Regions from separate parts of the Homo sapiens genome. Here region 2 is linked to region 1. The links come from fine-mapping of genetic effects on gene expression. A gene starts in region 1. The other region holds a variant in brackets. All regions are shown on one strand. Distances are from middle to middle. Region 1 holds the start of PTGS1 (prostaglandin-endoperoxide synthase 1). Region 2 has its middle 9.0 kb from the start of OR1L3.

Evidence for each region. PIP is the estimated chance that this variant, and not a neighbour inherited with it, causes the effect. A credible set is the group of variants that fine-mapping cannot tell apart.
Region 2: its variant is the best candidate, but not a certain one, in a credible set for the expression of PTGS1 in esophagus muscle (GTEx, PIP 0.76).

What each region holds. Positions count from the first base shown.
Region 1 is chr9:122,367,803-122,373,177 of GRCh38, reverse strand. It overlaps PTGS1 (prostaglandin-endoperoxide synthase 1), which reads right to left and starts at 2,154. Exons shown (of 11, transcript NM_000962.4): 1 at 2,087-2,154; 2 at 1,906-1,992. The coding sequence starts at 2,093.
Region 2 is chr9:122,681,467-122,686,841 of GRCh38, reverse strand. It overlaps the pseudogene TLK1P1. Among named protein-coding and RNA genes, the nearest start is that of OR1L3, 9.0 kb to the right of the region's middle. The variant G/C (reference allele first, on the strand shown) is at 2,979.

The DNA of each region.
Region 1 (5,375 bases):
CCTCCTGCTCCACATTACCCTTACGGTGTTTCCTGGTCGAGTCTCTTAGTGTTTCCCCCACCCGCCACCTCCTTCGAGGTCCAGTCCAAAAGTCATCAGATCCAAGAAGCCTCCCTCAATTCTTCGCACTGAGAGGCAGCTGCTCCCTCCCCTGAGCTCCGCACACCCCTGCTCCCTTCCCTGGGCTCCCTATACCCCTGCTTCCTCCCATGAGCTCCGCACAGCCCTGGTCCCCTTGGATGACAGTCTGTTGGCATTTCTGGCTCCACCATCAGCCTGTCAGCTCCTCCCAGCTCCGTGTCTCCAGGCCCCAGCCAAAGACTGGCATAAATAACCCTTGGGGATAAAAAAAAACAATTCCGTGTAAACATTTATTATACAAAAGGAAACAGAAAAGGCAAAAAACAAAATAGCACAGACCATGGCTCATTGTGCATTAGTGAATGGACTAAAAAAGAATACAGACGGGTGGGACCTGTATACCAAGAGTGCCTGGATGAGGCCAGATGGGGCCTCAGAGGAAGTGCTGGGCTGATCCAGGGACTGACAAGATGGGTCAGCGAGGCAACCTGAAGAGCCCCTTCTACTCCCCACCACCAGCTCACTGTGAGGATTCAGACAAGTGGCTTCACTCCCTCTGGGCCTCAGAGTCCCCTTCTGTAGACTGGGTCTAACGCATCTCTCTGGCAGGGCTGTTGAGAGCACCAAAGAGGTGGATGTCCACAACCAACCTTTGTAAACTTTAAAGTGCTGGCCACATGAGTCTTCCTCCTCCTCTTCCCATAAACCAGACTTTTATTCAACGCAATCCCTTTCCTAGAGCACCCTCCGTCCTCTCTTTGGGTCCCCTAAATGCCACCCACCCAAAGCCCGTTTCAGGAAACTTGGTCTGATCCAAAATCCATGTACATATCTTTCCTCTTTCCCCCACGCACCAGATCCTTAGAGCATCACAGCAGAAAGTGCGGACTCCCTCTGCTCCCTCCTGCCCTCTCTGGGCCTCATTTTAGAGATTTTACACAGCTAGGTGGTGGAGGAAACTATATCCAACTGGGACACATGCTCACACACACGCACACACACAAGCAGCGAGCTGGGGGAGGAAGGTTGGCTGAGCGAGGAGCTGAATTCCTTCACCTGGAACCTGGCACATGCATGGGGGAGGGAAGGGCGGAATTTCCCCATCAACCTCCCCCATGAAACCCAGAGTGGCTCCGGGTCCATTGTGGGTAGAAGCAGCTTTCTGTGGAAAGACCTTGCGAAGTGTGTGGACGCAGACAGACCTGAGTTCAGATCCTGGGCCCACCATGTATTTTGTGAGCTTGGGGAATCATGGCACCTACTGAGCCTCGGTTTCCTCATTTGCTCAATGGGGATCTCTTAAACCCCAGATGAAGCATCCCGGCTCCTAAATGTATTTCCATCTCCCATGTTCTCCCGAAGTCTTCACCAGGGGAGACCTTCTCCACTGGCAATGGGAATCAGGATGGGTTCCCAGACGGTTAGAGGCTGGAGAAAGGGAACTCATTTCCCTTGGTGCCTGCGGCTTCCTCCCAAAGAGGCCCCTATAGGAAACAGCGGGGTTGTTGGGTGCAGAGGCTGCTTAGACATCTGGGGCCCAGAACAGGTGAGGGGGATGGATAGGGACTGTCCCTTCTCCCCAAGTTGGCACCAGATCCCAGTCTGCTGTTTCCCCTGAAAGAACTAGATAGCCCATTAGCCAAGGCCACACCGCCGGGGGGGCTTCAGGGAGCCCCCATCCCACCAAAAGACTCAGCCTCAGTCTTTCTCAGCACCGCGAGCAGAAAGGGGAAGCTGGGCCCGCTGGAGGGGAAAGGAGGGGGTTGAAACCAGGCCAGGGGCGCAAGACCGGGGATTCCCTTGGGGAGGGATGGGGCCGCCTACCTGGCGTGGGCGCCCCTGGGTCCGCGAGCAGGACGGGGAGCGGCGGGAGCAGGAGCAGGAACAGCAAGAACCAGAGCAAGAGACTCCCTGCAGAGGAGAGAGATGAGGGGCTGAGCCTGGCATTCAAGGCTCCACCAGGAGGCCAAGAAAATTCCCCACCGGGCACCGGGGTCGCACTCACGGCTCATGGCGCGGCTGCTGGGGTGCGGGACGCAGAGTGCAGGCTCCTGTGCGTGCGCCTCGCACACTGCCCGGAGCTCCAGCCCATCCCCTCCCCACCCTTCCCCCGGCTCCACCCCCGCTCCTCCCTCCAGCTGTCACCTCGGCTGCCCGCTTACTTCCTCTGCCCAGCCCCGGCCAAGGCATTTTATTAATTAGTGTATGCTCGCCGCTAAAGCGGCTTTTCACCCAAGATCCTTGAAGCACTTACGTTTCTGATGCCTGGTGGCACTAGATATAGACAGGAAACTGAGGCTCAGAGACGATGCTCAATGCTGAGGTCACCCAGGGCTTAGGGACAGAACTGGGGATGGAAGCGGCTCGTCTGAACCACATACCCTGCCCCGCAGAGAAGAAAGGGTCTCAGAGTCCCCTTCTGTAAAATGGGTCTAACGCACTCTACAGAAAAGGGTAGAGAAGAAAAGGGGCTAGAAACAGGGCAGTCTGCAGAGAAGAAAGGGGGCTAGAAATGGGGCAGTCCAGCCTGGCCTGCTGATGGTTTCCTAGATGAGAAACTCACTACTCCTCAGACAGATCTAACAGGAAGGACTTACTTCCCCCATGGGCTGGGCTCCGCCCCCTGAAGCCACAGGTCTCTGCCAGAAATGAAAAGACCGGGCTCCAAACTCCAAGAGAGCCTAGTTCAAATCCAGACTCCACAGCTTACTGGCCGTGTCACCTTGGACAAGGTACTTATCTTTTCTAGCCCTCAGTATTCTCATCTATAAAATCGGCTTAATAGCAAAAACCATCCCAGAGGGTGGTTGTAAGATTCAATGAGGGAATGCACACAAATCTCCTGGTGCAGTGTCCAGCATGTAGTAGGTGCTCAGTTATCGGAAGGCATTTTTTCAAAGATCTCTGAACTCAGATTCCAGGGCTGGCCAGGGTCCATGCTGTAGCTAGACTCACATCCACCGCCGAATTTATAGAATCCCAGCATCCAGCTCTCCTTTTCGCCAGCTCAGGAAGCACCTAGAAGGAGGAAGGAATAGGTCCAAGATCACCCAAAGTCCCATGGTGCTGGCACCCACAAGTCATCTCCCTCAGTTTCCCCAGCACACCCAGCCATCCTGTGGGCCCCACAGTGGGGAAAGCCGGCAGGAGAGCTCAGAGGTTCTTGTGCTGGCTCCTGGGCATCACTGGGTGCAGGGTAGAAATTATGCCAGGTGGGAGAGGTGAAACCTGCTGGGAAGCCCCTCCCCCATTCTCACCCAAGCTGTTCCCATGCTCCCCTGGGACAAAAGCCAGCTGCCCTAGGGAGACAGAGCAAGCCAGGGCAGACCTGGAGAAGGAGTGGGGCATTGGAGGGCCCTGGGGCTCTCAGGGTGCCGGGACCGGCTTCAGCCTTCCCTTCCTCCCCAAATCAAGGGCCCCCTAGCATTTACAGGGCAAGGAGATGGGATTATCAGCAAAAGGGATGGGGACAGGGTGGAGGTGTGGGGGTCCAGTTGTCCAAAGAAAGGGGGAGTTTCTGGTGAGAAGAAAGGAGAGACGGGCTTGAATGAGGTTCCATCTTCCACTCCCAGGCCCTCCCTCCCTTTGGGCCCTGAGCCCATCAAGTCACCACACCTGTGCCTCCTGCTGACTTCCAAGCCACCCATCTGCACTCAAAACAAGAAACACTTGTGTGGCCCTGGCACTGATGGGAAGAGCCTTCACCTCAGAATCAGAAGTGAGTTCAAGTCACTTCTTCCATAGCGTGACCTTAAACAAGCCGCTAGGCCTCACTGGGCCTCTGTTTCCCCATTTGAACAACAGAATGAGCAGATCAGATGGTCTCTGAGGACTGGTCCAGTTCCAGCATGGAGCAATTGAGCCCTCACTGCAGCCAGGCTCTGTGACCAGCACCACAGATCTCAACACAGCTGCAATACAGGAGAGGATGGAGTCTGAGAGAGCAGGCAGGGTGCCGAGGCAGCCCTCCAGGGATGAGGCAGGACCAAGAGCATGGAGTGGGGAGAAGGTAGATGAGAGAAATGGTGGCAGAAGTGCCAGGGCTTGGTGACCGATTAGCACTAGAGCTTAGGGGAAGAAAGGTGCTGAGGACACCTAGCCTTCTGGCTCAATGCTGGTGGTAATATCCAGGGAAGGGGAGCTGGCATGGGTAGGTGGAATTTGAATTTGGGCTTCTTGTATTTGATCCACTTCAAGGAATGAGGAGGATCAAACCTTCCCTGCCTTCTCCAGCTTGGCCCATGGGCCAGCACCCCCAACCGCCCCAGCATGCAGCTGGATACACAGGGGAGAGGTCTGGGGTAGCCCTTGCCCCAGCCCTGGGAAAGAGACCACAGCACAGGGCCACCTTTTCCTGCTCCCTACTGCAAAGCTATAGTCTAAATGCCTAGGACTGGTGTCACCATCCTAGTCCTCAAGATTGTGAGCTTCCACTTATAGGGCAAGTCCACCTCCCATGTCCCCTGGTAGGCCTCCTCTAACATGCCTCCTCCTCCCCCTTCTCTCCTCTAGGAAGCCCCTGTGCCTTCCCTGGCCACAGCAGTGCCACTCCTGATCACATTGTCCCTCTGCCCCCAAACATTATGAGGCTATAAGAGTCCTGGTCACTCTTGTAGCCCCAAGGCCAAGCATAGGATCTGGCGGATAAAAGACATCCAGGGAATGTTTGTTGCTTGAACAAAGAAATGAATGAGTATCTAAAAGAGTAGTGAATGCATTAAAAAAACAGACCAGGTCCAGCACCAGCCTCATCGAAGTGACTGCCAACCACCCATCTGCTGTGACGGCCACCAAAAGTATCACTGCCTGCCTCAGTTTCCCTGCCTTCTCCAGCTTGTCCCATGGGCCAGCACCCCCAGCTGTCCCACAGGCCCAGCTTCACCCCAGGCCCTGAGCCCTTCCCAGCTAAGGCAGCAAGGACCTCCTTCCCTATACCCCACTGGTAACAAGGGATAGGATTTCTCTCTGCATAGCCCCCTCCCCATTATCCACACCAATCACGTGCCCTCCTGCTCACCCTAGCTACAGCCTGGATTGTAATGCTCCTGGAGAGGTCTCACTCCTGCTGGGCCCCACCCACTATTTGGAAAACCAGAGCTGACTCTTACCTGAATCACTCATGGACCCAGCCCCACCCGGCCCCACCTGTGTAGGCAGCTTCTCAGTCAGGCAGGAAGGCTCTGGACTCAATCCAATATCTCTTCAAATCCCAGTCCTCCACCCCACCTGACCTCTCAGTGTGACCTTAAGCAGCAAACTGCCCTTTGTGGACCTCAGTTCCCCCACCTGTAAAA
Region 2 (5,375 bases), 310 kb before region 1:
GAGCAAATAATCTATACATCCTTCCTTCTTTTCCAGGTCCTGGATTTTATTACTTTCTAATGCTGCTAATTTCAGGATTGTGAGATCAGTCTGAATAATTTTAAAGGATAACTTCTTTGGTTGTACAATAGGGTGGTCCCCAAATGCTAATGCAGTAGGAGAAGGGCTATTTGGTCGAAGAGATGAGGAAGGAGTGGAATGTGAATGTGAATTTTGAGGAGAACTGATTGCAGGAGGTATGCCTCTTACTGGACTTGAGCCATTTCCACCCTGGTATTCAAAATAGTCACTACTTTTGTGGCCACGTCCCCCCAATACTTTTTCCCTGACAATTTTCATTCTGGTTTTCTGCTTTTCTCTATCTTCCCCTGGATGATTCTGATTGTTTCTTCTCTGGCTTCTCAAGGGAACCCACTGCAGATAAAGTCCAGTCACTGTTATAGTCCTTTCAGCTGCCTGCCAGTCGTTTCTCTGATTCTTTGTCACTTAAAGATCCTAAGCTTCCAAAACTGTGATAAGAGCTTTCATTATCTGTTGAGGCTTTAGCTCCAACACTGCAACTGCTGGTACTCCCAGTGTTCCCACTTACAACTCCAATAAATCTAGCTTCCAATAACTCTTGCCTTCTTGGATTCAGACTACAAAGCTCATCCATTGCACCTTCCCTGGGCCTCCTGGATGGTGGTGTGTGTTTCATCAGGGACCTGGCTGCCGCTTGCCGCTGAGCCTGGAGTTGGAGATGTGGAGAGGTGGGACCAAGATGGTGGCCTCTCCAAACTTCCACTCCTACTTTGGACACTCATCAAGCTGCTTTCTGGGAACCTGACTCCCACTCTGCAATGACAGCAGTGACAATGGCACTGGCACCTGCCTCCATCATAGTGGGGGCTTGGCTGAGGGTGAGCAAGAGAGTGAGGGCAGGGAGGGGAGAGTCAAGGGGATGGGGGAGGAAACGAGGGGAGGTGGGGAGGAAAGAGGTGAGGGAAGGAGAGCGGATGGGGAGGAGGGAAAGGGGGAGAAGTAAGGGAGTGGGTGGGCGCACCAGAGAAGAGGCTGAGGGAAGGAGCCCAGTGGCTGAGGTGTGGTGGGGGCACCCACCAGGGCTAGGGTCTGAGTGTGGGCCTATTGCTGTTTTTGATTTAAAGTCTGTTTTATCTAATAGAAATATAGCTACACGTACTTGCTTTTGATTTCCAATTGCATGAACTATCTTTTCCCACTCTTTTACTTTCAGTCTGTGTGTGTCTTTATGGGTAAAGTGAGTTTCTCGTTAGCAGCGTATAGCTGGATCTTGATTTTATTTTATTCATTATGCCGATCTTTATCTTTTAAGTGGAACATTTATTTACATTCAAGATTATTATTGATATGTGAGGCTTTGTTTCTGTCATATTATTAATTTTTACAAATCGTTTTATAATTTTTTTCTTTTTTTTCTCTTTTTATCTTTACGGTTTTAACAAATTATGTCATGTTGCCATTTGATTCTTTTCTCCTCCTCCTTTGTGTGATTATTTTATAAGAATTGTTAGTTTTATTCTTCCATGTGTTTTCATCATAATGAATACTGACCTTTCATTTCCATGTTTAAGACTCCTCTGAACATTTCCTGCATAGCCAGTCTAGAGGTGACAAATTTATTCAGCATTTGATTGTCTGAGAAAGACTTCATTTCTCCTGCATTTATGAAGCTTTTTCTGGTAGAATATAAAATTCTTGGCTGACAGGTTTTCTTTCTAGTGCTTTGAAAATGCCATCCCATTGTCTTCTGACCTATAAGGTTTCTGCTGAAAAGTCTGCTGTTAATCTGATGAGGTTTCCTTTATAGATGACTAGCTGCTTTTCTCTTGCTAATTTTAAAATTCTTTCATTTACTTTGACTTTAGACATTCTGAATAATACATGTTATGTTGAAGTCTTTTTGCAATGTTTTTTCCTGGGGATAGCTGGGCCTCCTATATCTGGATATCAGACTCTCTTGCTAGGCTTGGGAAATTTTCATCAGCTATTTCCTCAAATAGATTTTCTAAACTTTTTGATCACTCTTCCCCCTTGGAATACCAATAATTCATAGGTTTGCTCATCTTATGTAGTCCCAGGTGTCTAGAAGGCTTTGCTCCTTCTTTCTTATTCTTTTTCTTTACTTTTGTCTAACTGTATTATTTCAAAAGACTTGTCTTCTATTTCTGAGATTCTTCCTTCTGCTTTCTAGTCTATTATTGAAGTTTTCAAATGTATGTTTTATTTCCTTCAATGATTTTTGTTTTGAGACAGTATTGCTCTGTTGCCCAGGCTGTAGTGCAGTGGTGTGAACATAGCTCACTGCAGCCTTGAACTCTTGGGCTCAAGTGATCCTCCAGCCTCAGCCTCCCAAGTAACTGGGACTACAGGCATGCACCACTGTGCCTGGGTGATTTTTGTATTTTTTTTTTTTTTTTTGTGGGGATGGGATCTTGTTATGTTGCCCAGGCTGGACTTGAACTCATGACCTCAAGTGATCCTCCTACCTTGGCCTTCCCAAATGCTGGGATTCTAGGCATGAGCCACTGCACTCCACAGTGAATGAATTTTTCATTCCAGAATTTCTGCTTTTTTTTCCCTAAAGATATCTATCTCCTTGGTAATTTTTTAGTCATATCCTAAGTTGATTTTTGGACTTCTTTATATTAGTTTTTAGATTTCTCTTGCATCTCATTGAGCTCCTTTAAAAATCAATATTTTGAATCTTTTACTTGACATTTTGAGGAATTTTTTTTATTGGGATCTGTTGCAGGACAGTTGTGGTCCTTTGGTGGTGTTATATTTCCCCAATTTTTCATGTTTTTTGTGTCCTTTTGATATCTGAGCATCTGGTGAAGCAGTTGCTGGTTCCAATTTTTTTTTGAAATTGCTTTGGTAAGGGAATTTCTTTCCTGAAGATATGTGTATGTTGTTGGTTGAGAAGGATACTTTGGCTAGGATTATGGGTGCCTGCAATA[G/C]TGTGATCTTTGCATGAACTCTTTAGCAGTATACAGAGTCAGTGGTATCCGTGATTTCCTCAGTGGCTTAGGGTACAGTTATTAGCTGAGGTTGTGGCAAGATTTTGCTGGGGACTTGGACACTGACTGAGCCAGTCTCCAGGTCCCTGTGGTGGCAGCAGTGGGTTTAATGTGCCTGTTTTTAAGCCCAGAGCAACTTACAGTGACTTTGGTGTTAAAGTGTCCTGGAGGGCTGGTTCTTGGGCCCCAAGTGGCTTGACTAGAAGCTAGTAGTGGGATTGGTAGGCCAGGTGTGTGGGTGGGTTCTCATATCCTGTGACAGCTGGTGTAATGTGGGTGATGGCAGTATCAGTGGTGGAGCAAACCACAGGGACCCGAGTGGTCCATATTGGTGTTCTTGATAGCTGTGATGGGTTGAGCAGGCTAGTCCCCAGTCCCAGAGCCACTGTAGCAGGGTGATGGGTATTACCCTTAGTGTGCTTAGGAGAGCTTTGCCTCCCCTGTCTCTCTCCCAGCTGAGTGGCAGCTGCAGCTGTATTGCCTTGAACTTGGGCCAAGTGTGGGGCACAGCTCAGTGTTAAACTCTCGAAATGAAGCTAGCTGTCAGTTTGTGACCAGAGAGGGGAGGACCCCCTAAGGCAAGCAGTATGGGCAAGAAACTATGGGGAATGGGGTCTGCTCAAGTCTTAGTCTCACAGCAGCCTGTAGCAGGGTAGTGAATATTGTCCTATATATGTGTAGGACAGCTTGGTTTCCTTGTCCCTTTTTGACTGGGTGCTGGCTGCAGCCATGGCAACTCAAACTTGGCCCAAGGGTGAGGCAAATCCCAGGATTAAACTCTTAAAATGGTGTCAGTTGTGGGCTTATTACCAGAGAGCGTGGATCCCCTCTCAGGTGAGCACCATGGGCAAGAAGCTGTGGGAAATGTGGTCTGCTCATATCTCAATCTCAACAGCATTCCACAGCAGAGTGGTAGGGATCCTCCCAGGGGTGCACGGGAGCACCCAGTCTCTCCTATCTCTCCTTGAAGCAGCACAGTGGCAGCAGCTAAGTATGTAGATCGCCAGTATCTGGGCTCTCTAAATGGCACCTGGCTGAGGCTGGTCTAGGCTCGGATGCCTGTGAGATTCCATGTGGGTTCCCTTTCTGGAATGACATCTCTGTGCAATCTTTAGGCAGCTCTGTATGTCAGGCCCAAGGTCTAGAGGGTCAAAGTTTTCTCCCAAAGTCCAGAGAAACCTGGGAGTTTCTCTCTTACTGTTTCCCCATATCTAGGAGCCTCTCTCAGCTCTCAGTTAGTCCCTCACTAGGCAAGGTGTCCTGAACCTTCTCTTTACTTATTTTTGGTGCTTCTTGTATTTTCTCTGGTGAATCCTAGCATTCTCTTCTAGATGGTCTGTTTGAAATGTACCTACTTTCTATTCTGGTTCCTCTCCCTGGAGGAGGAACATACTACCTTCATCTAGTCAGCCTTCTTAATCCCTTTCTTGTCTAAACTGTTCTATTTTCCATTAAATTCATACTCTGGATGAAGCAACTTTAGTTCATCTTCTTAGGATGTTCAAATCAGGTCTTCCATCTTATCACATTAGGTATTATGAAAGGAACAGGTAAGAGAGTGACAGCATCAACAACAACATTGACTAAATGCTTACTATGAACCAGGCACTGGTCTAAGCATTTTATACACATAAAACATTTAATCTTCACAGTAATTCTTGAATGTTGAAACCATTTTATGGATAAAAAACAATGTAACATTTCTGTTACATTAGGATTAGAGACAAGTGTATTCTTGGGGCAAACAGGAAATGGGTTAAACAATACCATATTGCTCACTGAAAATTTTCTAAGAGAATAGATTTTAGGTACTTTTTAGTACACTAGAAAAGCTAACTATGTAAGATGATGGATATGTTCATTTGCTTGACTATAATAATAATTTCACTATGTATACATATATCAGAACATCATGTTGTACACCTTCAATATATACAATACAAAATCTCAAGAAAATTTTTGTGAAATTGATTAACCATTGTTAAATTTTCTCTAGAAAAGAAATTGTTTAAGAATGATCAAAAAAATTAAAAATAACAACGATGGAGGACTTGCCCTAAAAGATTTTTTAAAAGCTCTTAAGTTATAGCAATTAAAGGCAGGAGAATGGTGTGAACCCGGGAGGCAGAGCTTGCAGTGAGCCGAGATCGCGCCACTGCACTCCAGCCTGGGCGACAGAGCAAGATTCCGTCTTAAAAAAAAAAAAATGTACATATTGCTACAGTTTGAATGTGTCACACAAAGTTCATTTGTTAAAAACCTAATCCCCAATGTAACAGTATTGAGAAGTGGGAACTTTAAGAGGTGATTGGGTCATGAGGGCTCTGTCTTCATAAA